Linked DNA regions of Homo sapiens: region 2 is linked to region 1. The links come from fine-mapping of genetic effects on gene expression. A gene starts in region 1. The other region holds a variant in brackets. All regions are shown on one strand. Distances are from middle to middle.

Region 1 (2,912 bases):
TAAGTCTGTTTCTCTTCTGTAAAACTGGAAAAATACACAACTTCCCAGGGTTGTTATGAAGATTCCACAAGACATCATTCATAAAAGCACTAGTCTTCCTAGACTTCCGAATTAGCTGAGATACTCTCTGAAGAAATAATACTGAGGCTGAGATCTGAAGGGTGAGTGAAGGTGCAATAGCCCATTCCAGGCAGGGCCATCGATGAGTGAAGATCTGCTTAAAAGACCACTTAGGTGACTACCCCAGATGGATAGATCTCAAGGCCAAGGATGGTAAGAGTGGCGACAGTGACAACAGACAGACATTTAGAAGTAGCATCTATAGGACTTGATTATTGACTGCATGTCGGGGAGTTGAGAAGAGGGAGATGTCAAGGATGATTTCCAGGTTTTGGGCAGGCACAACAGGATGTATGGTGGTGCCATCTACAGAGTTGGGGGTTCCTGGAGGAAGAGCAGGTGTGGGCTGTGGGGAAGTGGAAATGCTCAGTTTGGAACTTGCTGAGCTTGAAATACATATGAGCTATCCAAGTGGAGGCACGGTTAGCAGATTTGTGGGTCTGGAGCTCAGAAGAAAGGTCTAACTTAGAGATAAAATTTTAGGAGAACGCATAGGGTGTAAAGCGTCCCTGAAGAGCACCACCATTTAGGATAGGGATTGGAGAACCTTGCTGAGCAATGAGACAGGAGAGAAACCAGGGGAGGGAAATACCACGGGAACTAGGGGAATATAATATCCGAAGAAAGTTGCGCCTGTCCCAGGTTAAGCCCTTCTTGCAAGGCTTCAAAAACGCCGAAGTCTCTCAAAATACTTTCACACAGAGAAGTAGCAGGGGGTGCGTGTCCAAGGTGGCCGAGGCGGGGTGCACACTTGTGTAGGGCACTTTCCCCCCGGCCCAGCGCGGAGACAGGCGAACTGGAGAGCCGCCCTGCCCACGCAGCTCGCAGCTGCCATCTTGGACCCCGGCAGGACCAGCTCCTTTCAGGCGCTGTGAAGCCCGCTCGTGGCGGCTGCCAAAGTCCGGGGAAAAACACAGGGGTCGGTGACGAGCAGAGATACTCACCATGTCCGCGACGTGGCGGTGACACGGGCGCTGACGCCTGCCCAAAAGTTCCGGGGGCCGGCCCTGAAGTGGTGTCACCGCACGGCCCAGGGGCGGGGCCCGGGCGGACCAACTACAACTCCCGACATGCTCGGCGGCATGACGTCACGGAGCGTACCACACCGCAGTCCCTCGCGGACGGCGAGGCGGGGCGGGTAGCCGAAGACTTATGTTTGGTAAATTCTATTAGTTAAGTCTTTTCTGTCCTACAGAAGCTCACACATCCTTCTGTGTGTTCTTCGATGCGGATTCGAATCTCCTCGTATCCTCCCACAGCGTGCTTGGAATGGATTCTCCCGTACCCGGGGCAACACATCACACAATAAACGCCAGCTGTGGTGGAACGTGCAGAGGCGCTGCGCAGCCCAGGCGTGTCGCGCGCTTGGGAACCCTCGCCGCTCCCGCAGCGCAGTTAACGTGGACAAGCTGGGGCAACCTGGACGAGCTGGGGCAACCTGATCTCGGCTGTCGGAGTGGGTGTCCTCAAGAAAGGTGACTTGGTCCTCGCGGACGCCAGGTGTTGCCCCTTAGATACCTGCCACCTCCCAGCCTCCGTTTCCTCTCTGGGAAACAGACTCCTCATCACCTCCTCCAGTTTTCTGCCCCTTCTTCACCTCTCCTGACGCTCCATCCGTACCTTTTGCAAGGGAACGTGCCATAATTCGGCTATGCTCTATTTTCTTGTCTAATAGATTGTAAGCTCCTTGCGGGCAGCATCTATGCCTTCTTAAATCTGTTTCTAGTTTCTACCAGCAAGCTTGCCCCGAAGGGGATTGCAGAATATCTGTTAAATAAGTGAATGAATAATTTTGTAAATGTTGCTCAATAAGAGTTAAGTAGTGGCGGGCCGGGCGCGGTGGCTGACGCCTGTAATCCCAGCACTTTGGGAGGCCAAGGCAGACGCATCACCTGCGCTCACGAGTTCGAGGCCAGCCTGGGCAAAATGGTGAAACCCCTGTCTCTACTAAAAATACCAAAAAAAAAAAAAAAAAAAAAAAAAAAAAAAAAAAATAGCCGGGCATGGTGGCGGGTGCTTGTAGTCCCAGCTACTCGGGAGGCTGAGACAGGAGAATCGCTTGAACCCGGGAGGCGGAGGCTGCAGAGAGCCAAGACAGCTCCACTGCACTCCTAGCCTGGGCAACAGAGAGAGACTCCGTCTCAAAAAAAAAAAAAAATTAATAAGAAAAAAGTTAAGTGATGGGAAAGTTCTAGGCAAGAATTTCTTCCCTCCCTCCTCCCTGGCTCGCTTGTGTGCCGGGAGCTGCGCAGATGCGGGGATACCGTGAGAGGGAGGAACCTGTCTCAGCTCCTGCCCTTGTGCCGTGGAGCTTTGAAATATAAGGTAAATGAAAGTACTAAATCTTGACTGAAGTTTGGTTTTAAAGCATCTCTGATTAATGGAAGAGGTAGGATGTGGGGAAGGGCGTTGTATTTAGTTATGTTTCAGTTTAAAATGAATCTTCACTTGCCCCTTTGGTGTTACGTATTAGCAATGATTCATGCTCAGGTGAGCCAGTTTCAGGCAGGCTTGCAGAGAGGCACTCAAACAGCTTGCTTTAAATTTAAGGTAAAAGGCCGGGCGCGGTGGCTCACGCCTGAAATCCCAGCACTTTAGGAGGCCGAGGCAGGTGAATCACTTGAGGTCAGGAGTTTGAGACCAGCCTGACCAACATGGTGAAACCCCGTTTCTACTAAAAATACAAAAATCAGCCGGGCGTGGTGGCAGGTGCCCGTAGTCCCAGCTACCTGGGAGGCTGCGGCAGGAGAATTCCTTGAACCCAGGAGGCGGAGGTTGCAGTGAGCTGAGAT
Region 2 (2,912 bases), 38 kb before region 1:
TCAGATAAGTGTCTATGACCTATATGCAAAAAACTATTAACATTTTAAATACTAATTTTAAAAATCCAGGCATCAGTCAGAGGCCCAGAAAGTGGTGGGCAGAGAGGACAAGAGAAAAGGCTGGGCTCCAGCCTACCTCAGTGCTCTTAAGGGCATGGGGCAGGTGGATTCCAGCCATTTCTGTGCTTTGGAAAAGCTGCCTGATGGTGTTTTAGTCTTTGCACAAGCTGCATCCTCACTAGTCCTGGCCCAAACTTTTGGCTATAGGAGACAGGTACACCCCAACGTGACCCCTGGACCTTAAGAGACTACACCCTCCAGCAGTGCCTGGGACTCTTGTAAACGGAGGAGTCAGTAGAAATGTAGTTGCTTTGGACTTACTGAAAGGACTAGCTAGTGGTGACAAGCTGAGGCACCAGCACTACGAAGGCCACTGAGCTGAGGACAGAGGCAAGTGGATGCCGTGGAGACATGTACGTACATGATGTTTACTATTATATAAAAGTAAAGAAGCAAGGGGAGAAAAGACCCTATGTGTAAACACATCAAAACCATTGTGTTGGCAGGGTGCAGTGGCTCATGCCTGTAATCCCAGCACTTTGGGAGGCCAAGGTGGGCAGATCACCTGAGGTTAGGAGTTCGAGACCAGCCTGGCCAACATGGTGAAACCCCGTGTCTACTAAAAATACAAAAATTAGCTGGGCTAGTGGTGGGTGCCTGTCATCCCAGCTACTCGGGAGCCTGAGGCATGAGACGAGGGGCAGAGACTGCAGTGAGCCGAGATTGCGCCCCCGCACTGCAGCCTGGGTGACAGAGCGAGACTCAGTCTCAAACAAACCAACAAAAAACCACCGTGTGAACTGTGGATTATGTGCAGGTATATAAGGCCGTATCCGAAACCTTGGGAACAGAAATGTTTTAGAATTAAGACGTGTTTGGATTTTGGAAATGCCACACAATGTACAAATAACATATAACACATGTACACCCTACTGCAGAACCGCCTGGGCATGGTCTAGAATTGCACCCTTTTGCCATAGTTGTGTTTCTGCAGTAAAATATAACACTGTTCACACAAAATGGAATAAACACTAAATACAGTCTCAGGCGTGTGCAGCTAAGATGATCTTGCTGCCTTAAGAATTATAAACATACTGTGTTTCAGACCCTCATGTCTTTTTGAATTGCAAGTAAGAGACTGTGGACCTGCATGTTTCTCTTCTCTATTTCTCAAATTTTCTGTAATAATATTGTGGTGAGGTTACAAACATACTGCCATTGGCCACAGATGGACAGCCATAAGGCTATCTGTCCTTGCCTACAGCAGCTCCATATTCCCCACAAGGTCCCCACCCCGCTGGATAACGGGTTCTTGCAGAGGTGGGCAGCGTCTTCACACCAGAGCTCGAGAAGCCAGCCCCCAGCCCCGGGCCTTCTCCCACGTCTCCGTGCCTTGAAAGCTCTCTCCCAACTTGGGTTCTGAGGCAGGGGTGGAATGAAGGCCTCTGGATATGATTCCTCCCTCTCTAACTCCTTTTCCCCACTGTCCCGTGGAAGTGGAAAGGCTGTGTGACGAGCCCTCGACAGGAAAAGCGACGCAGTAGGCCGAGGACAGGCCGGCCCTAGGGGATGCCCCCGTGGTGTGTAGACTGCCCCTTAAGTTCACTGAATTTAAACCTAAGCTAATATTTTCAGGCCTGTGGCACAGCTAGAAACCCAGATGATGGAGGAGTTCCACGG[C/T]GTGTAAGGCAGAGATTCGGACTCAGAAATTAGGGAGGTGGCTTCTCACATCCCACATGGTAGGAGATGAAGTCTGAGGTGAGAGCAGCGCAGTGGTCTTCTGATCTGATGAGAACGTGTTAGGCTGGTTTCCTGAGGGACAAGTCCATCAAGTCTGCTGTACAAGCAACATCTCATCCTTATTCCCAATATTAATTAAACCTTTGATATAGCCATGTCCCGGGGTCTTATTTCTGCCTACCTACTAACTCAAGATCTTGGGCTCCCAGATTTCCTTTTCCTTTTACTATCTATCTACCTATCTGCCTACCTACCTACCTAACCTGCCTAACCTACCTAGCCTGCCTACCTATCAGGCCTACCTAGGCTATCTATCTACCTACCTATCTATCTATCTAGGACTTCTAGTAAACACAGGTTCGGTAAGAATAAACCTTAAGCTTTTTCTTCTTCTACCTGACAGTGTTCTCACAGCAGTTGAAAGAAAATGTTTCAAATGATAAATTATACAGAAAAATAATATTTCAATTATATATGTACATGCTGTTTCTGAAGGTATGCTATGTATTCATCTACTGTCTTTATATTGTTTAAATGAAGAAAATAGGTTGCACAACAAACATTTCCTTACAATAACTCAAATTTCTCAAAATGTGTTAACATCCTACTCAAATTAATCTTTGTTCCTAAGAGGAGAAAAAGTATAAAATGCTAATCTTACTAATAAAATAATAATAATTATTATTTTTTTTGAGACAGAGTCTTGCTCTGTCGCCAGGCTGGAGTACAGTGGTGCGATCTCGGCTCACTGCAACCTCCGCCTCCTGGATTCAAGCAATTCTCCTGCTTGAATCAGCCTCCCAAGTAGCTGGGATTACAAGTGCCTGCCACCACACCCAGCTAATTTTTGTATTTTTAGTAGAGACAGGGTTTCACCATGTTGGCCAGGATGGTCTGGATCTCCTGACCTTGTGATCCACCCCACCTTGGCCTCCCAAAGTGCTGAGATTACAGATGTGAGCCACTACACCTGGCCTTTTTTAATTTTTATTTATTTTTATTTTTATTTTATTTATTTATTTTGAGAACGGAGTCTCACACTGTTGCCCAGGCTGGAGTGCAATGGCGCAATCTTGGTTCACTGCAACCTCCACCTCCCAGGTTCACGTGAT

Evidence for each region. PIP is the estimated chance that this variant, and not a neighbour inherited with it, causes the effect.
Region 2: its variant is fine-mapped to the expression of UFSP2 in whole blood (TOPMed, PIP above 0.99).

What each region holds. Positions count from the first base shown.
Region 1 is chr4:185,424,802-185,427,713 of GRCh38, forward strand. UFSP2 (UFM1 specific peptidase 2) reads right to left here and starts at 1,163. Exons shown (of 12, transcript NM_018359.5): 1 at 1,065-1,163. The coding sequence starts at 1,067. CFAP96 (cilia and flagella associated protein 96) reads left to right here and starts at 1,453. Exons shown (of 8, transcript NM_001114357.3): 1 at 1,453-1,595. RefSeq lists enhancers at 927-1,036, 1,107-1,466.
Region 2 is chr4:185,386,403-185,389,314 of GRCh38, forward strand. The region is part of intron 1 of LRP2BP (LRP2 binding protein); the gene reads right to left. Among named protein-coding and RNA genes, the nearest start is that of LRP2BP, 8.1 kb to the right of the region's middle. The variant C/T (reference allele first, on the strand shown) is at 1,741.